Linked DNA regions of Homo sapiens: region 2 is linked to region 1. Evidence: fine-mapped expression QTL. Tissue or cell type: blood mononuclear cells. Region 1 holds a variant in brackets; the other region holds the start of a gene. All regions are shown on one strand. Distances are from middle to middle.

What was found. PIP is the estimated chance that this variant, and not a neighbour inherited with it, causes the effect. A credible set is the group of variants that fine-mapping cannot tell apart.
Region 2: it holds the start of CCNB1IP1, and the variant in region 1 is the best candidate, but not a certain one, in a credible set for the expression of CCNB1IP1 in blood mononuclear cells (TOPMed, PIP 0.71).

What each region holds. Positions count from the first base shown.
Region 1 is chr14:20,362,375-20,373,297 of GRCh38, forward strand. It overlaps TEP1 (telomerase associated protein 1), which reads right to left. Exons shown (of 55, transcript NM_007110.5): 47 at 10,896-10,923; 48 at 10,637-10,773; 49 at 10,359-10,483; 50 at 9,115-9,258; 51 at 8,844-8,940; 52 at 7,300-7,405; 53 at 6,970-7,202; 54 at 6,424-6,528; 55 at 3,293-6,185. The coding sequence ends at 6,063. Among named protein-coding and RNA genes, the nearest start is that of PARP2, 24 kb to the left of the region's middle. The variant A/G (reference allele first, on the strand shown) is at 4,647.
Region 2 is chr14:20,328,489-20,339,411 of GRCh38, forward strand. CCNB1IP1 (cyclin B1 interacting protein 1) reads right to left here and starts at 4,791. Exons shown (of 7, transcript NM_021178.5): 1 at 4,766-4,791; 2 at 686-885. RefSeq lists an enhancer at 4,561-4,870.

The sequences.
Region 1 (10,923 bases):
AAGAACCACAGAACCGTACACTTCATAAGGGTGAAAATGAATTACAGGCCAGGCACGGTGGCTTACGCCTGTAATCCCAGCATTTTGGGAGGCCAGGGCGGGTGAATCACTTGAGGCCAGGAGTTCAAGACCAGCCCGGCCAACATGGTGAAACCCTGTCTCTACTAAAAATACAAAAATTAGCCGGGCGTGATGGCACATGCCTGTAATCCCAGCTAGTCAGGAGGCTGAAGCAGGAGAATCGCTTGAACCCAGGAGGCGGAGGTTGCAGTGAGTCAAGATCACACCACTGTACTCCAGCCTGGGCAACAGAGTAAGACCCTGTCTCAAAAAAACCAGACAAACAAACAAACAACAACAAAAAGAAAATGAATTATATCACAATAAAAATATACCAAGTTTTTGTAATATAAATATATATATATATATAGGGGGATCACTTGAACCCAGGAGTTTGAGAGTACAGTGAGCTCTGATCATGTCACTGCACTCCAGCCTGGGTGACAGAGCAAGATCCAGTCTCAAAAAAAGAAAGGAAATCAGAAATAATTTCAATAACTAAATGTCAAAGGGAAATAGAAAGTATCAGGGAAAATGGAGGTGAATAGAAAATCATGATTAGAAAACCGCACTAATAATACTGCAGTCAAGATCCATGGATGAATGCTAAGATTAGTCGGGAAAATGATATTTGCATAGCCTCAAAAAACCTACCTCCAGATGTATAAATTTCTTTGATACCTCTCTCTTCTAGAGGTTTTCTTTCCTTCCCCTTGAGTATGGGCTGGACTTAGTGACCCGCTTCTAACAGAAGGTATGGCAAAAATACCTGGCAAATATCACTTTAACTTTAAAAGTGATCAAGGTTAACACCACCAGTTATAAGTTATGTTAATATCATATGCACCCAATAGGATGCAGTATGAAGGCACATCATCTCTTGAATTCATCCATTAAATCCATAATCTCAGCCTATTCATGAAAAAACAGAAAACAAAACCAAACTGAAGAACATTCTACGACATTCTTCACTCTTGTTGCCTAGGCTGGAGTGCAGTGATGTGATACTCGGGAGGCTGGGGCAGGAGGATCACTGAGCCCTAGAGACATGGGTTGCGGTGAGCTGTGATTGCACCACCACGCTCCAGCTTGGGCAACAGACTGAGACCCTGTCTCAAGAATAAATAAATAAATAAATAAATTTATTTTTTAAAAGTGTCAAGATTTTGAAAAGACTGAAAATCTGTCACAGTTGGAGGAGACTGAGAAAACGCAATGACTAAATGCAATGTGGGATCCTGGATTGGCTTCTGGAACAAAACAAAGTCGTTAGCGGAAAAATTGGGCAAATCCAAATCCTGACTGTAATTTAATTAACATTTTTAAATTAACTTACTGGTAATTTAATTAACAAATGTTAATTTCCTAGTTTTGATAAATGTAGCATGGTTATGTAAGATGTTAACATTAGAAGAAGCTGGGTGAAGGGTATCGAGGAACACTTTGTACTATCTTTGCAACTCTTCTGTAAATCTTACATTTTTTTTTATTTTTTAGAGACGGAATTTTGCTCTTGTTGCTGAGGCTGGAGTGCAATGGTGTGATCTCAGCTCACTGCAACCTCCGCCTCCCGAGTTCAAGCGATTCTACTGCCTCAGCCCCCAGAGTAGCTGGGATTACAGGTGCATGCCACCACGCCCAGCTAATTTTTATATTTTTAATAGAGACAGGGTTTCACCATGCTGGCCAGACTGGTCTTGAACCCCTGACCTCAGGTGATCTGCTCTCCTCAGCCTCCCAAAGTGCTGGGATTACAGGCTTGAGCCACTGCGCCCAGCCTAAATCTTACATTATTAAAAAAGAAGGATTAAGAGCCATTCTAGTGGGAAAGCACCAACACAGATATGTTCTTTGGGGATGTCATCTGTGTATTGGCTCCTGGTTCTTCTTTCAGACACATCGTAGGATACTTCCTCCCCATCCCTTGACATTAGGTATGGCCACGTGACTTGCTTTGCTTGTATTTATTAAATATGAGTGGAAGTGATGTGTTTTATTTCCAAGTGGAAGATTGAAGAGTTACTCGCCACGTGAAGCACAGAGCTCAAAATATGCGCAAAGTAGAGCAGGGCCTTCTCGCTGACCCTTAACGGGCCATGTGGCATGATTTAGAAATAAATCTTTGCTATTTTAAGTTGTTGAGATTTTGGGGTTGTTATGATAGCATAACTTTAATATTTTAACTGATAAAGAAACATACCCATCGTTCTGGATGAGAAGATTAGGTATTTGGAGGGTGGGAGGAGGGAGAAGATCAAGAAAAACAACTAATGGGTACTAGGCTTAATACCCGGGTGATGAAATAAACTGTACAACAAACCTCCATGACACAAGTTTACCTATGTAACAGACCTGCACTTGTACCCCTGAACTTAGAAAGAATACGAGTTTCACATTTTTTTGAAAACTAAAAAATTCGGTCCAGATTTTCTGATTGATTAAATATATACTAATAAATAAGACATTTATGAGAAAGAATAATGAGGTGATACTCGTACTGCTAGGTAACAAAAAGAACAGTCAAGTTAGCACTTATTGAATACTTACCACAAAAGTGTCACTGTTCTGTGTTTTACACCTTAACTCATTTAGTCCTTAAAACACTCCCATGAAGTAAGCACCATTATTATGGCTGTTGTACAAATGGGGGAAAGGAGGCATGAAGATTTGAACTCAGGCAGTCTTATTCCAAGTCCATGCTTTTTGCTGCTGTTACCCAGTCTCTCTAGAGTAGTGCTTCTCAAACCTTCTGAGATGAAGGACTAATTGTTCCTTTGTCTTTCTTTCTTCCTTCCTGCCTCCCTCCCGCCCTCCCTCTCTCTTTCTTGCTTTCTTTTTTTTCTTTTTTTTTTTTTTTTGACCAAGTTTCATTCTTGTTGCCCAGCCTGGAGTGCAATGATGCGATCTCGGCTCACTGCAACCTCTGCCCCCTGAGTTCAAGCGATTCTCCTGCCTCAGCCCCCCAAGTAGCTGGGATTACAGGTGCCTGCCACCATGCCCAGCTAATTTTTTGTATTTTTAGTAGAGACGGGGTTTCACCATATTGGCCAGGCTCGCCTCGAACTCCAGACCCCAGGTGATCCACCCGCCTTGGCCTTTCAAAGTGCTGGGATTATAGGCGTGAGCCACCGTGCCTGGCCTGTTTTAATTTCTTATCTGTCACGGAATAATACTTTTATAAAATATAATCAAAATGGATTATTAAGAAAATGAAATTAAAAAGCACACAAAATACAAGCCTCCATTTTTATTATTAAATTTGTCAGATATTACTTTTTAAATTCCTACACAGTTTCTAAATGGTTACTCTCAACTTCCGTACTTATCTCATTATAAAACATTAACAATTTGTGAACTGGCACTAGTCCATGAACCAAACTTTGAGTACCTCTGCTCTAGATTTCAAAAACAGATGTGGATATATGTGTAAAAATTTGGTATATAAAAAAGATGCTTTTCTAGATGGGTAGAAGAAAAGATTGTTCAAATGTCCTATGGTCTCACAATCCAGTGGTTATAACTGTAAAACTCATCCAGCCTTTGGGAGACACTGAAACTCCATTTAAAGATAAGAACTTGAAGGATGTTTAATGTAAACCTAAATTGATTTTCCCTTCAACTCCTTTTGGGTACATAATTACTTTTACCTAGAAGCTGTTCTTGACTTTACTCATAACAATTATACCATGACCTCACTGTCCTTCTCCAAGATGAAACAAAAAACCCTTCAAGTGGGCCTGGCCAACAAGACTGAATCTATTGAGCCTATTGGTCAAGTTAGCCTTTGCTTAACTTTCCCCAACCCCTTCACTCCAGCCTTAGCTGGGATGCTTTTATATAATTTTCAGAGCATGGAAGAGAGACAAATAGAGCTTCCTCCTGCAATTGGCCCAAGATTTTAGGGGAGCAAAAGGCAAAAGATTGAAATCAATGACTAGGATGATGCCATGCCATAGTTCGCTGCAGGATTTCTGGCAAGGATTATGGATCATAAATTTCAAAATACCATAACTAGGACTTCTAGTCACAAGGTAGATGTGGAAATGATGGTCCAGAAGGTATATTTCGAGGCTTGGCATGAGGCACATAAGAGAAGACAGAAGCATGGCCTATCAGCGGATGTCATCATCCTCTGGTCAGGATGGAAACCAGGGCATTGGATAGAAATAAAGTCCCTCAGGTTATTTCTCCATGTAAAACCTGGAATCAGGGTACAGTGAGAGTAAAACTCAGTGCCCTTTAACTCCCCAAGTCTTCAAAACTCATTTCTAGACCAGGGTGTAGTGGTATTTCTCCAAGAGAAACCTACCAAACCAGGACAAAATCCCTGTAATAGCCTTCACTTATCTCCTACAAGTCCTTGAATTCTTGGCCACAGAAGACATTTCCTTCTTCTTTAACCCTCAGAAAGAAAGGGCCTGAGGAAACTAAAGTCAGTGGTTTCAATCTTTTGCCTTTTGCTCTCCTAAAAGCATGGGCCAAGGGCAGGAGGAAGCTCTAGTTGTCTGTCTCCCATGCTCTGAAAATTCTACAAAACACCCCAGCTAAGGCTGGAGTAACAGAGGAGGAAAGTTAAGCAAAGGCTA[A/G]CCTGCTCAATAGATTCTTCCATATGATTGAATTTTAGAAATATAATAAAGTTCTTTTATGGGCCGGGCACAATGGCTCACGCCTGTAATCCCAGAACTTTAAGAGGCTGAGGTGTGCAGATAACCTGAGGTCAGGAGTTTGAGACCCACCTGGCCAACATGGTGAAACTTCGTCTCTACTGAAATACAAAAATTAGCTGGGCGTGGTGGTGGGCACCTGTAATCCCAGCTACTCGGGAGGCTAAGGCAGGAGAATCGCTTGAACCCAGGAAGCAGAGGTTGCACTGAGCTGAGATTGCACCATTGCACTCCAGCCTAGGTGACAGAGCCAGACTCTATCTCAAAAACAAAAAAAAAAAAAAAAGGTTTTTTACTTAAGAAAATCAGAGTTCATGGCTATGATTGTGCCACCTCTCAATTAGTTTTAATCTTTGTGAATTTCAATTTGAGAGAGAGTAAGACACTTTCGTGATCTCTTCTGAGAATGCCAATTACCATATTGACTAAAGTTGAAAGTCGTGTCAGAAGTTGGGAAAACCAGAAGGTTTGTTCCGCTTTCAATGGCTTGGCTCCTCACCTCTCATCTGGGTAGTTCTTTTTTTTTTTTTTTAGACAGAGTCTCGCTCTGTTGCCCAGGCTGGAGTGCAGTGGTGTCTCGGCTCACTGCAAGCTCCGCCTCCTGGGTTCACGCCATTCTCCTGCCTCAGCCTCCCAAGTAGCTGGGACTACAGGTGCCCGCCGCCACACCTGGCTAACTTTTTGTATTTTTTAGTAGAGACAGGGTTTCACTATGTTAGCCAGGATGGTCTTGATCTCCTGACCTCGTGATCTGCCCACCTCGGCCTCCCAAAGTGCTGGGATTACAAGCGTGAGCCACCATGCCCGGCCTCCTCTGGGTAGTTCTGAGAAAAGGGCTGTCTCTGTGACAGAAACATAGCTCTTTCTAAATGCCCTGATGCATGACTGACTTATTCTCCCTCCCTCATTCTTTCCCGATGAACTGAAAGGTCTTCCATGCTCTGTTCAAATTGAATGTTGGCCAACATCACTCTCATTCCTCCTCCTGGCAAGAATGGCATCCTAGGGTCCTAGGGCCCGCGAGTGATGCAAGAATTCTAAAACCTAGTTTCAAAAGAGTACCTACTAAAGATTTCATTCACTTTCTTGTGGTTCTAGTAAGGATTAATGTTGAATAAGAAGAGACACACATTAGAATGTACATATACATACACATAGAATATCCTCCTGTTCTAAATCCACATGAGAACACAGGCAGGCCTACACTTGAGATTTTTTGACACTTCATTTTTATAATTATCAAGAAATTATTAATTTTATAATTATTAAAAGCTACCAGTGTCTTCAGGCTTTGCATCTCTAGCACAAGGGGTATCATTATTCCCGAGTGGCACATCTTCATTCCCAATTCAGAAAGTACACATTGCCCTGCACGTCTCCCACGGCAAGCTGCAGGGTGGAGTTAGCGCCCAGCCAAGGTTCCAGGCAGCTCACTGACCCTTCGCATCGGAACAGGCCCAGCTACGATGGGAACAAAAATAGGGGAGGTCAGGGCTACAAGCCTCCTTACTAACTTATTTTTTCTCACATTAATGCCTTTTATTTAGAAACAGGTTAGTCATACATTGCAAGTGATTGAAGAAAACAGAATTTTGATCTTTTGCCCTTTCTTACTCTAAGTTTGCTGTCTTGTGACATCCCTTTGGGATAGGTGTGCAGGCGCACGCACACACACACACACACACACACACACACTTACCAGCTGCATACTGGGTCTCTCCCATAGCTTAACATCTCTGTCCTTCGAAGCTGTCACCAGCAACTCAGGTAGCACATGGAGGGCTGTGACAGAGCCCGAGTGAATCTCAAAGAGGAAAGGGGAGAGCAGAATGGTGAGTTCTCAGGGGCCCCTCCTCAGAGAAGCATCACAATGTGCTGTGTCAGACCTACAGCCCTCCTCCCTTAGTATTTCTTTTTTTTTTTTTTGAGACAAGAGTCTCGCTCTGTCGCCCAGGCTGGAGTGCAGTGGCGCAATCTCGGCTCACCGCAAGCTCTGCCTCCCGGGTTCACACCATTCTCCTGCCTCAGACTCCCGAGTAGCTGGGACTACAGGCACCCGCCACCACGCCCAGCTAATTTTTTGTATTTTTTAGTAGAGATGGGGTTTCACCGTGTTAGCCAGGATGGTCTTGATCTCCTGACCTCATTATCTGCCCGCCTAGGCCTCCCAAAGTGCTGGGATTATAGGTGTGAGCCACTGCTCCCAGCCCTCCCCTAGTATTTCTGACCCTTCCTTCAAACTCACCTTTCTACGCTGCCGTGTCTTTAGATGTGGTGTTGGCTCACTATCCATGCTGGCATCACTATCCATGCTGGCATCAGATTCCCTGCAGGTAGATGGGTCTGTCCCTGGAGTTTGGGTTTCTGGAGTGTTTGCTTTTTTCTGCCACATGTTACCTGTGGTCCATTCTCCTTCTGGGCTGCATTTGGCCAGGTTCCATAGGATCCCATCAGAGCTGGCACACAAAAATGAGGACTCTGCCATTTTAAGGACAGAATTAGAGCCAAGTCTCAGGGATCTGCCATCCACCCTGGGCCATCTCCCGGCTCCTCAGGTCCTCCTGTTACCACTCACCAGATTCAGGTTTGGCTTGAGTTATCGATATTAGGGTCCTACTAGGATTCTCTAAGTTTATATCAAAGTTCAGCCTCTCTTCAAACTCTCCTGATTCCTTTTGCCTCTGTGAAAGAATAGGTAATTTTGTTTAGCCTACCCATATGAGTCAACTTGTACCAGACAAAACAACAGTTTTCTGCTCTGGGCTGGTCAGGAATTTTTTTTTTTTTTAACTACAACTTAGATACAATCAAGTGCGCAAATTTTTTTTTTTTTGAGACGGAGTCTCACTCTGTCGCCCAGGCTGGAGTGCAGTGGCGTGATCTCGGTTCACTGCAACCTCTGCCTCCTGGGTTCAAGCGATTATCCTGCCTCAGCCTCCCAAGTAGCTGGGAACACCGGCGTGCGCCACCACACCCAGCTGATTTTTTTATTTTTAGTAAAGATGGGGTTTCACCATGTGGGCCAGGCTGGTCTCGAACTCCTGGCCTCAGGTGATCCACTGGCCTTGGCCTCCCAAAGTGCTGGGATTACAGGCGTGAGCCACTACACCTGGGTAAGTGCACAAATCTTAAATGTACATCGGCGATGTATTTTTACATGTGCATCCACCCATGCAGTCACCCGACAGATCAAGATGTAGAGCATTTCCATCACCTCAGAAAATTGCCCTTATGTCCCTTTCCCATCAATACCAGACCATCACCACAAAAGCTAAAAATATTCTAATGTCTGTCAACTGAAATTAGTCTTGCTTGTTCTTGAAACTTCATTTAGGTGAAATCATATAGTATGTACTCCTTTGTAACTGGCTTCCTTTGCCCAGAATAATGTCTACGAGGTATGTCTGTATTATTCCATTCATCAGCATGCAGTATCACATTAATTTTTTTGCCATGTAGTATTCCATTGTATAGATATACCACAAATTATTTATCCCCTTTCTATTTATTAATATTTAGCTATGATGAATAAAGCTGCTATGAAGATTCTTGTACCCGGCTTTGCAGAATGTATGTACTCCTTTCTCTTAGGTATATATTTAGGAGTGGAATCACTGGGTCAAGCATAGGCTTTAGTAGATAACTTTAGTGGGTAGCAGGTCAGGATTTAATAACCTTCCCAATAACAAGCGGCTCCCAGGAAACTGCATTTGAAGTGAACAGCTAGCTTTGGCACACTCAATCCAAAAAGTGTTGAACATCTATTAAGTAACTGCTAAGTATGATGACAAAAACAAGATGGAGTCCTTGCCCTCAAGATGCTATTATTCATAGGGGCAAGACAAGAGAGACACGGGAAAAAATGCAATTGAGAAAACTTCTAGGTTTATGGTTTCCTATGGCTTTCTAAAACGGTAGAGTCCTTTCTTGTACCAGTGAAATCTTACATGGGAACCCAATACACAATGTCCTAAATTAGAACTGCTCCAGTTGAAGGAGGATAAGAGGATTTGCAGCCAACTGCCTTTCCCTTCCCTATCCTCCATGACGGGCCCCAAGGTGTAAAAACACTGGTCCTAGACGAATGTTTGCTTTAGCACACACTCAAATAGGACTTACCAAGAAAGAAAGAACTCCAGGATCCTTGGGCTGCAGGACAAATATGCCATACTCCTTGTGGGTGGACAATATCATAGGATTTTCTGTATAGCTGCTCCTGGTTTGTGAGAAAGGAATAGGTTGAGCTCAGGATTTAAAGAGAGGTAAAGAGAAGAACACCTCTCTTTAAGACTCCAGAGTTTTCTTCTAAGTTAGACTCAACCTCAGGATAACCACTAACTCAGGTTTCCTTTTTCCCCAGCTCAGGAGGAAATGGCATTTTGGATCTTACCAGATTTCAGATGGAGCATCCCCTGGCTTCATGCAAAGTAACTTCAAATCTGCTTTGGCCAAGATGAGAAAGTGACCATCAGGAGCCCAATCCAGACTTGTCAGCACCCCTAAGTCCTCCTGTAGAATTCGGTTCAGGTGAAGACTAGCTCAAAAAAGTACATGGACAGAGAAAGATCCTATTTTAGTTAACCTTTCTCAGGCTCCTCAATCCCACATGAATTCCTCAGGAATGAAGTACAAAGCAAAATGTATCACCTTCCCTGAAAATCCTGTTCCACTTTCTGGTTTTTGTTTTTTAACATTAGTATTCATCGGTGCCATCCCATTACTTGCTCAAACTAGGAATCTCTAACATTCTTGGCTTTTCCTTCCCTCTCTACCTCCAACTCACCAGTAAGGCCTGTGGATGCAACACATGCCTAAATCCGTATCTCCCCTTCTCATCTCCACAGCCCAGGTCAGGCCCACATTACGTCTTTCCTAGGCTATAGCTACAGGTGTAAATGTGGTCTCCTTACCTTTAGTATCTCTCTACTACCATCCATCTTCCATACTGCCACCAGTTCTCTTTATAAAATCCAGATAATTATTCCACCCAAAATTCTTAGCACTGTGCCCTCTACAGCCTGACCCCAGTTTATCTATTCAATTCCATTTCCCTTACTCCCACCAGGAATCCAAGGAGCTGGCTATACCCAGAATATACTACATACTCTCAACATCTCCATATCTTCTGTACATGTTCCTTCCTCTTCCTGAAACACTGTTCCCTTCTCTTACTGGTCCAGAAAACTCCTACTCATTCTGTAAGTGTCCAACCTTAAATACCAACTCCTTCCCACAATTTCTCAAATTTTGAAGCCCCAGGAATATGTGTGTGTGTGTGTGTATGTGTGTGTGTGTGTGTGTGTGTGTGTGTGTGTATCTTCATTATAGCACTAGTCAGTCTGAATAGTGCTGCTGGTTTAAATATATGCACATTCCTCTACTGTGAGCTTCCTTAATTAAAGGATGAATTTCATCTGTAACTGGTTCATACTGCCTGGCCCAGAGCTTGGCATCAAGTAGGCACCTGAGAATTATTCATTTACATTGCCATGGACAGAAGCAGAAAATAATGTCCCACTCAGTAACTAACATCCAATTGACCTAGTTCAGAAGCAGAAGTGCAGTAATTTGGGTAAAATGCCAGGAGTGAGGAGACTGCTGTTTCTATCCCATTAACCCATCAGCCTGTTTCACCTCAAATTTCCGGGTGCCGAACCCTTCCGCAGTTTCACTTGCCACTCGCTGATTTTCTCATCAGCACTGAGGACAAAAAAGGTGTGTGCCGAGGACCAGATCAGAGCACCAATGTGGCCTGGAGCCTGGTGTACACAACAAGTTCAATTCAGTGCTTCTGATGAGCCAGGATGCACCATCTTTTCCCTCCCAGGCACATATGCAACCTCTAACGCCCAGTAAATACACAGCCAGGGTAGAATTCACACAGACAAAGAACCAAGGGTACACCGACTCACCTGTGCTGTGGCCACAGCCTTAGCTTCCTGCCACAAGATTAGTTCCCCAGCTTGATTTCCAGATACTGCCATGGAACCATCTGGTGCCCAAGCCACAGCAGTGACGGCTGCAGAACTCCTTGGTATACATGTGTCATCTGGAGGAGAAAGGACGTGTTTCATTAGGAGCTGGGATACTGCTGGGATAAGAGATATCAGGCCACCCTTGACCTTTTTTTGTGCCAGTAACACACCCTGTCTCTCTCCAAGCCTCACTCACCTGCTTCCTTAGGAACCTGCCAGAGCCG
Region 2 (10,923 bases), 34 kb before region 1:
AGACAAGAAGCAAGACATGGTGTGAAAGGTTTCTCCAGTTTTAACAATGTCTACCTTAAAACTCCTTGATCTCTCCAAACCTAAAATAAATTTTTTTAAAAAGGAAATTAAAAAAAAAACTACTTGATCTAAGTATTCTTACAGGATAATAATTATAGGTTGAAAGGAACAACTTCTCTATTAATCTCAACTCACAAACAAAACCCAGATTGCAAGAGGCCTGGTCTTTTTGTTTTGACACATAGCACAAAGCCTGGCACATAAATCCTGATGTTAAATATGTGATACCTTTCCCAATGTGTGATGCTTCCCTGCAGGATTCTAGTCATGCATGCTTCAACAAGTGTCATTCCACCATACAAAGGACATTTCGTATTTACTAAGTATTGTGCAAATGCTCCATAAACAATCAATGATCCCAGCATTTTGTTGACTGTGGGCAGTAATCACTTCAAAGTACTAGTGTTCATAGCCAAAAGGTACATTTTATATGTGTGAACAGATGCTTCATGAAGGCCTAATACAAACTACAAATTGATACTAAATCAGCAGATACTCGTGTTAAGATTTCATCACCATTCCTTTTGACTCTATTCCAATTTACTCAGTGCCACCTAGCATTATAGGATACAATGGTAACTCGAATCTCTAAGCTAGGCTTTTTAGATAGGAAAGACACACATACGTGTAATGAAGAGAACTTAAGGCAGCTTATCTTGATCAAAATTCAAGTACCAGGCTTTAGGTACCATCAGCCTTTAACCCTTTCTGTTGAGAATATCCAAATCCAAGCCCATATGATTTTCAGGGGGTCTACAGATGGGCCAGTTCTGGACTGGCACACAGGGTGCTGGACTTCCCTCCTCAGTGGATTTCATCTTCAACCTGAAACAAAATGAACACACAAAATTTTGTTCATAGGAAGTAAATACTAGACTAATAGCTTGGTATAGTTTTCCTTTAGAGATAGTTATATAAGGTACTGCTATCAGAACAGACTCCAAGTTTTATTTCCCACTCACTATCAGTTTCCTTCCTTTTTAAGGCAGAATAGTATTCCACTGTACATATGTATAATATTTGCTTTATCCATTCATCCGTTGATGGACCCTTAGGTCAATTCCGTATCTTGGCTTTTGTGAATAATGATGCAATGAACATGGGAGTATAGGTATCTCTGACATACTAGTTTTATTTCCTTTGAATATACCCAGAAATGGGATTTCTGGATTATATGGTAGTTCTATTTTTAATTTTTTGAGAAATTTCCATACTGTTTTCCATCATAGCTGCACTAATTAATATTCCCTAAAATAATAGATTTTGAAATCATACTAAACTAGATTTTAATCCTGGCTCTCTCATGTATTTGCTGTGCCCATGGGTAAGTTATGCAACTTCTCTAAACTTCAGCTGTCCCCTCTGTAAAATGAGGACAAATACTACATACCTCTTAAAACTTCCGTGAAGACTGAGGTAATAAATACATTTTGCACTGTAGCTGGCATGGAGTTAAATGTTTAATATGTTATTTCTATGTCTTGCCCAAGCTCAACCAGCTAGTGAGTAGAAAGGCAAATATTCTGCCTAAAAATTTCACACTTTTCCACAGCCATAAAAAAAAAAAAAACAAAAAACATGTCCTTTGCAGCAACTGGAGCTGCTGGATGCTGCTGGGGGCCATTATCCTAAACGAATTTATGCAAAAACAGAAAACCAAGTATTGCATGTTCTCACTTATAAGTGGGAGCTAAATCTTGCGTTGGGAGCTAAATCTTGCGTAGGGAGCTAAATACTGGGTTCACAGGAACAAAAAGTTGGGAACAATAGACACTAGGTACTCCAAAAGGAGGAAAAGAGAGAGAGGGGCAAGAGCTGAAAAACTTCCTATTGGGTACAATGTTTACTACCTAGATGGCAGGATCAATAGAAGCCCAAACCTCAGCATCATGCAATATACCCTGAAACAAACCTGCACATGTACCCCGTGAATCTACAATAAAAACAAATTTAACAACAAAAAGTCACACTTCTCACAATAACCCAGAAGCCAGAAAGGTCACTCATATAGTACTCATAAGGGCCCTTCCAACTCCAAGATATTGTGTCCTTTTTTTTTTTCACTCTTGTTGCCCAGACTGGAGTGCAATGGCGCGATCTCGGCTCACCACAACCTCCACCTCCCGGGTTCAAGCGATTCTCCTGCCTCAGCCTCCCGAGTAGCTGGGATTACAGGCATGCACCAACACGCCCGGCTAATTTTGTATTTTTAGTAGAGACGGGGTTTCTCCATGTTGATCAGGTTGGTCTCGAACTCCCGACCTCAGGTGATCCACCCTCCTCGGCCTCCCAAAGTGTTGGGGTTACAGGCGTGAGCCACCGCGCCCGGCCATATTGTCCTTCAAGCAAAAAAGACACAGGTTTGCTTCCCCCTTCCCCTCATTTCCTACTTAACAATGAAGACTCCAATGTATTATGAAGTCTTATTAACAAAAGCATGCTTCCATTGGAAAGAATGTAATGTTTTCCCAACTCACAAAACTTCCACCTAAAAAACCGGAACTAAGCCTCTTAAGACTAAAACAGCTTTGGAGAAATTCCCAAAGGCTTCCTTTTTTATTTTGCATGTTTACATCCTAAAATACATTTCAGCTTTTCCTAACTTAATACTAAAATATGCCCTCAACACCATGAGTTCAGGGGCATATCCAGCACACATTTTCTAAGTAAACACTGAAAGCATGCCCTTTCTGCCCCTGTGAATACAAAGATGACTTGGTTGTTCTGGGCCACTGCTGTCACTCCTTCCCAGCATTAAACACATGCTCATAACAAGATAAACCATCCCCACTCAAACCAAAGTGGGCAAAGATATATTCACATAAAAGCCATCAAGATGATTTTCCTTTCGGTAGAAAATCCTTTATTGCTCAATCAAGTTTAGAGTATTGATTGGTTTCTAATCACCACCGTGTACAAAATAAATATAAATAGGAAGCACTGCAAAATATCTAGAGTCCTTTTAAACAAGAATATACCAAAACCCAATTGAAATGCCTTTATGCCAACTGACTGATTTACAAGGTTATTCATTTGAGGGGGAAATATCAAGATCATAAACTATCTGAATACCTACTGATAAAAGCTAAATAAATTATAGTAGGTACATAAATTAGAATACTGAGTTACCATTATACCCTGAAAACCTACTGAAAAAATATATTTTTTAAAAAAAATAATTTTTAAAGAATACTATGTTACCATTATGAAGAATGTGAACACTCTACTCATGGAACTTAAGTGGAAAAAGTAAGACACATAGTAGAGTAGGTATAGTAAAAGGGAAGGATACCTACACATATTTGCTTATATGCATAAAATATCTTAGTAACACTGTTATGAGGGAGAGGAATTGGATGGCTTAGGGAAGGGGATAAGAAACTTTGATATCTTTTGAATTTTGAACCATGTGAATGTATTACCTATTCAAAAATATATATATATATGATGTGTATACATATATATATATATATATATATTTTTTTTTTTTTTTTTTTTTTTTTGAGACAGAGTTTCGCTCTTGTTGCCCAGGCTGGAGTGCAATGGCGCGATCTCGGCTCACCGCAACCTCCACCTCCCGGGTTCAAGCGATTCTCCTGCCTCAGCCTCCCGAGTAGCTGGGATTACAGGCATGCGCCGCCATGCCCCAAAAAATAAATTTTAACAATGCTTGAGAATTATAAAAATTATGGGAGGCCTACAAATACCTATTACTACATTCGATTAACTGGTTTATTATTTGTCTTTCTCACACTTTCTGCCTATAAGAATATCCAACACAAACATCACATTAAAATTAACATGTACCAAAAGAAAGGAATTCAGTGAAATGACATTGAAGGTCACTAAGCAAACTTTTTATGAGAAAACAGATATCCAAAATACTTGCTGTAAATAAATAAGTACTGCTTACTTCTAAAGGTACCTAACATTTATTACACACCAACTAGAGCCTAGTTTTTATATATTTTATCTGATCTTGGAAAGCTAAGCCTCGGAATGGCTCACTGCTTCTCCCAAGGTCACCAGAGCTGTAAACTGTGGCGCTGGAATTTAAATCTAGAGGCTTGCCCTGAACTAAGGTCCCTAATCTTTTTCCATAGCTTTTAAGGACACAATCACCACAGTGGCAACATTAAAAATTAGGAGCTCCTTTTAAGGCTTATCTGTCTTCAGAGTTTGCTGCCCAGGTTCACCAAGAAAGCCGAAATGATCTGAGCGAAGGCCAGGAGAAAGACAAGGTACGCTGCAGCTTCCACAAACCCAGTAAGGACCTGGGCCCTCTAGACACTCACCGGAGAATTAAACTCTACTGAGCTGAACGCCTTCTCCCGAAATCTGACCTCACCCAGGGAGATATAAATCAAAACAGCATTAGGATGATAATATCTTTCCCGCCAAGCAAAATGAAGCCGGCGTTTTCCAAGAACACACGCACTGTGCACATGAAGCACAGTCTATTGTTCCTGGGTCACCAGGACTCGGAGACGGAAGGCAAACCCAGTACTGCAGAGGCCCACGTGGAAACAAGCCAGGAAGAGCATTTCACTGCCTTCTCCCAACCTCCACACAGCCGAAATTAATCTCCTTGCGACTCACACACACTCCTATGCCGACTTGAAATAAAGGCCTGCCACCTGGGTATATAACTCAAATGGAAGAGAAATTCAAAACAATTAGAGAGCAAAATTAAGCGCACACTCACCAGCCCACCAAAACGGAGAGGGAAAGAAAGTGGAGAGACAGGAAGTCGCCTTGGGAAGTGTCTTCAGAACCTGATTGGCTAATGAGTTCAAGAGGATTCCCTCCTCCTTTACCTTAAAAGGTGCTGAAATGACGTAACCCACTCCACCCCTCTTTATGGACCAGTGATGCTTCTTGCACTATTTTTGGAGTGAACTTCTTAAACCGAGTTTCCTTTTGAGTTAATGTACTTAGGCAAAAACAGGCTAATTTAAGCTATTTATACACGTTGTTGTTTGCGTGGGCCTACTGCATTCTATTCTAAAGAATTTTCATCCCTTAAGGGTAATTTCTTATCCTTTGTGACCTCAACATGCTTAACTTATGCTAGGCAACAGATTCCATTATAAACAGTCTAGATCGATTCAAGTTAAAATTTACCTTCATTTTTTCCCCCCAGATCCAAAGCTGGCCTGATAAAATTTACCTTCAGGTAATCTTTGAACTAACAGGCTTAGTAGATAAAAGGTAGGTGGGTTAAGTGTTTTAGGCTTCAAATAAAATTTAGCTGATTTTGAATCTGAACCTTGCCACTTATTTGCACACATCTAAGCCTCAGTTCCAACTATAAAAAGAGGGAAAAAAGATGAAATCTTCCTACTCTGATGGTTATGAGGATTAAGTAAAATAATTTATATAATGTACTCAGTACAATGCCCGGTACACAGTACTCAACAATGTTAGCTGTTATTATTGTTATTACATATTTCTTGTTAGATTTATATTCCCAAGTAGACTATAAACAACTGGAGATCAAAGTGTACGTTTTACACATCTCCAGACAAAAACAATGACTTTCAATGCTGAGGACATAATTGATTAATCAATTATTTTGACTCCTCACATCGCCCTCCAGTTAAAGTATAGGTTCTTACTCTGTTAAATTTTTTTTTTTTTTGAAACAGGGTCTCACTTCGTGTCCCAGGCTGGAGTGCAGTGGTGAAATCTCGACTCACTGTAGCCTTGACCTCCCAGGTTCAAGCGATCTCCTGCCTCAGTAAGTAGCTGGGACTACAGGCGTGCACCATCACACCCAGCTAATTTTTGTATTTTTTTGTAGAGATGGGGTTTCGCCATGTTGCCCAAGCTGAAAGATTTCTTTTTAAGCCATAATTAGAGGACTCCCCGGCACAATATTCATCATTATTCTTAATAAATACTATTATAGTAATAGGGAATATATATACAAGTATGTGTTATATGTACAAATATACATGTAATGTGCAAATGTTTGAAGTATAAAGATTCAAGTTATATGGAGAAATGATACAACTCTAACTCATAGTAGTTCTCATTTTTTAATCATTTCATCCTATCCACCCTGCTTCCACCTTACTAGAAATTACCTATTCCAATCCACTTTAGAGTTTACCTGCCCCAAATTTCCCAACATTTAGCATCAAATGCTAATTTGTTATTTCATAATTGATTTATTGTAACTTCTAGAGTCAAAACATTTCTTGAATGTTTACTATAAATATTCAAGAAATGTAATATTCATTACCTTGTTTAATCTTCACATTAACCCAAGAATGTAAGCACTTTCATTATAACTATTTCACCAAAAAAAAAAAAAAAAAAAAGGAAACAGAGTTATAGAGATTAAGGAATTTGTCTATTTAGCAAGTGGTAAAGTCAGGATTCAGATCCCAGTTGCTATGGTTTGACTGTCCCCTTCAAAATTCATGTTGTCACTCTAGTTTCTCTTCATATCGCATAAATCTTTCACCTTTTACAAAATTCATGTTGAAACTTAATCCCTAAAGTGGCTGAAACTTAATCCTCATTAGAAGTGGGGCCTTCAAGAGGTGACTGGATCATGAGGGTTCTGCCCTCATAAATAAATTAATCTATTCATGGATTAATAGGTTATCATGGGAGGGGAACTAGTGGCTTTAAAGAAAAGGCAAAGAGACTTAAGGATAGCATGTTAGCAGTCTCAGCATCCTGGCCATGTGATTTCCTGCCACGCCTTGGAACATCACAGCGAGTCCCCTCCAGCAAGAAGGAGTTCAGATGCAACCCAGAGGCAGTCCTTAACCTTGGACTTCACAGCATCCATAACTGCAAAAAATAAATTTCTTTTTTAAAATAAATTACCCCACAGCCTAGCCAACATGGCAAAACCTCGTCTCTACTAAAAATACAAAAATTAGCTGAGCATGGTGGTATGGGCTTGTAGTCCCAGCTACTCAGGAAGCTGAGGTGGGAGGATCGATCACTTGAACCCGGGAGGCGGAGGTTGCAGTGAACCAAGATTGTGCCACTGCAGTCCAGCCTGAGTGACAGAGTGAGGCCCTGTCTCAAAAACTAACTAAATAAATAAATAAACCAGGCTTGGTGTGATGGCTTAGACCTGTAATCCTAGCACTTTGGGAGGCCGAAGCAGGTGGATCTCTTGAAGCCAGGAGTTCGAGACCAGCCTGGCCAACATGTCGAAACCCCATCTCTACTAAAAATACAAAAAATTAGCCAGGCATGGTGGTGCACACCTGTAATCCCAGCTACTTGGGAGGCCGAGGCAGGAGAATCGCTTGAACTAATGAGGTGTAGGTTTGGAGTACCGCTATACTCCAGCCTGGGAGACAGAGCAAGACTTTGTATCCAAAAAATAAATTAATTAAAAAACAAACTAATAAATAAGTGACCCAGTTTCAGGTATTCTGTTATAAGCAACAGAAAACAAACTGAGACAGCAGCCATCCAACTTGACAGCCCAAACTCAACCACCACATTGCACTGCTTCCTATATTGTGTGATTTCAGAAAACCTTAGAAAGTACAATATTCTTTTCAAATTCCCATTAAATATCTAACATTTCTTTATGATATTCTGTATTCCAGGCTTTAATACTTATAATAATCCATGATGAAATTCTCTTCAGCTGGTAACATCAAAATTTTGTGCTCTGTAAAATAACTTTGAAATTGTTTAAAAGTCGATAGATTCCTGGGGCCAGGTGTGGTAGGTCACATCTGTAGTCCCAATACTTGGTAGGTGGAGGCAGAAGGAGCGCTTGAGCCCAAGAGTTTGAGGGCAGCCTGGGCAGCATGGTAAAACAACTGTCTCTACAAACAATAAAAATAAAAAATTGCCAAGAGTGGTGATGCCTCTATAGTCCCAGCTACTAAGGTAGGCTGAGTCGGGAAGAGAGCATGAGCCCAGAAGGTAGAGGTTGTAGTGAGCTGTGTTTACACCACTGCACTCTAGCCTGGGCAACAGAGTGAGACCCTGTTTCAAAAAAAAGTAGATTCCTGGGACACACGTTCAGAGATTCTAATTCAGTGGGTGGGACTCAGGAATATGTATTTTAATAAGCACCCTCAGGTACTTCCGGTAGATTTGAGGCTCACCCTTTGGAGAACACCAACTGAATGACTATCGTTTAAGGATGTTATCACTGAAAGGGTGGTGGGGTTGAGGGATAAGGACTACATGCTGAGTACAGTGTACACTGCTCTGGTGATGGGCGCACTAAAATCTCAGAAATCACCAGTAACCAAACACCACCTGCTCCCCAAAAACCTATTGAAATAAAAAATAAATTTAAAAAAAGGAAAAAAGGGATGTTATCACTGCTGAAGTGAGTAAACTCTTGGAAAAGGCAGCACTCTAAAAATTTCATTTATAATTTATTCAAAATGAAGAATTGAGAATGGCCATTTGTCTGTAATTAAAAATTAAGCATCTCCTTTGCAAGTTTACATTTGGTTATCCACCCTGGAGAACTATTGTGCTCAAATGGGCATGTTCAAGGAAGGATGTTCCTTGTAGCACTGGTTATGACAGCAAAACAATTAGAAACACCCATGTCTATTCAAAGATCATTAAATCATGATACAACTATTCCTTGGCGGCAGGGGTGGTTAATGGGTACAAAAAAATCGTTAGAAAGAATGAATAAAACCTACTATTTGATAGCACAATAGGGTGACTATAGTCAATAATGACTTAATTGTACATTTTAAAATAACTGAAAGACTGTCCATGGATAAAGGTTTCAGGGGATGGATACCCCATTCTCCAGGATGTGTTTATTTCACATTGCACATAAAACATCTCATGTGCTGGGTGCGGCGGCTCACGCCTGTAATCCCAGCACTTTGGGAGGCCAAGGCGGGTGGATCACGAGGTCAAGAGTTCAAGACCAGCATGACCAACATGGTGAAACCCTATCTCTACTAAAATATACAAAAATTAGCCGGGCATGGTGGTGTGCGCCTGTAATCCCAGCTACTCAGGAGGCTGAGGCAGGAGAATCGCTTGAACCACGGAGGCGGAGGTTGCAGTGAGATGAGATCGCACCATTGCACTCCAGCCTGGGTGACAGAGCGAGACTCAGTCTCAAATAAATAAGTAAATAAATAAATATCTCATATACCCCATAAATTTATACACCTATTATGTACCCACAACATTTTTTAAATGATACAACCATTCTATGAGATACTACCCAGTAGTTAAACAGAATGAAGTAAATCTGCATGTACTGACATGAAAACATCTCCAATGCATATGAAGTGAAAATAGCCAAGAATAACACCATGTAATATGCTCACATTTATGTAACACTTCTCCCCCCCCCCACAAAAAATGCAAAATAGAATAATTCTGTATGTGCACATTTTTGCAAGTAAATGAAAAGAAAATAGTCTGGAAAGAGACACACCAAACTGCTAACAAGTTACTCCAAGGAGAAGGATTGAGGGAATTAAGGGAGGAGCTTTTTGGTTTTGAATATCTGCAATGTTTTACGAGAAGAATGTGTTCGTGTTTAAAAAATAAAACAGTACCTCTCCACAAAATAAGGGTAGAGATCCAAGAGTAGGTTTCAATTTAGAGGGGAGAAGAGAAAAGTAGGAGACCCCAACCCCCTAAGGCAGCAAAGGACAGGCTTCAAAGGCTAAATGGACACCACATTGAATGCCTATCCCCCAAGTTGAACCTAGGACTCCAGAGATTGGGCCTTCTACATGTTCAACACCTCCTACCCCAACTCTGAGCTACTACTTTCCCCCTTTTAATACGTCTCAGAACTCTCTCCATTTTAAATTAATATCTCTTGAGGATCCTTTCCTTCCAAAGTTGTAGCAAAGTAGAAGGTTCTCATCAACATCCCTTTCCTAGCTATTCCTGAAGACATGTATGCAAATTCCTTTAAATGGTGGTCCTGATCCGCAGCTTTGCTGATCACTTTTGGAAAATTGGCAAATAATAAATTTGGAAATTTGTTTATAACATCAGGCAATATAATATATAAATAAATATAAATAAGTTTGGAAACATATTTATAACATCAGGCAATATAATAAACCATACTTGTGGAATTTCAAAGCTTTTAAAATCTTACTAGTTTCCTTCAATTACTGATCTTTTTGATTCTGAATTTCTTTTTTAAACAACTCTCAAGATCCACCTCTTTGAATAAGGTAGGAAAGAGAAATCCTCAAGACAGTGAAGTTCAATAAAGTCTCACCTTTCCTTCAGAACCCACCCTCTTTTTCAAGTCATACCCCTTGCTCCTTGACACCCTGTCTTATTTAGTATCTCATTCAACAAATATCATTGAAAGCTAGATACTGTTCCAGGCATTGGTTACAGAGCAGGAAACAAAATACACAAAGCCCTGGCTCACTTGGAGCTTACAGTCTATTGGAGAGAGTCAGATCTCCTAAAAATTAAACAAATATATGTTAAGTTGTAATTAGTACTCTGGAAAAAAATAAAGCAGAGTAAGAGGCTACAAGTGATAATGGGAGTGATGTTATTTATATCAAGGAAGGCACCACTGCTACTAAGAACAAAGACCTGAAGAAAGTCAGGGATCAATCTTGTTAGCTGGAAGAAGAGTAGACCAGGTAGAGAGAACAGAAGCCTGTAGGGAGAAGAGTGACTGGTATGTTTGAGACAAAGTGGAAAGAGGCCAGAGTGCCTAACAGGAGTAAGCAAAGGGAAAAATAGTAGCAGATGAAATCAAAGCACTGGGGTAAGAAGCAGATCATATAGAGCCTGGTCAAGCCACAGCATTTGAGATGGGGAGCCACTGGAACAAAAATCTAACATGATCTAACTTTCATTTTATTTATTTATTTTTAAATTTATCTTATTTTTTAGACAGGG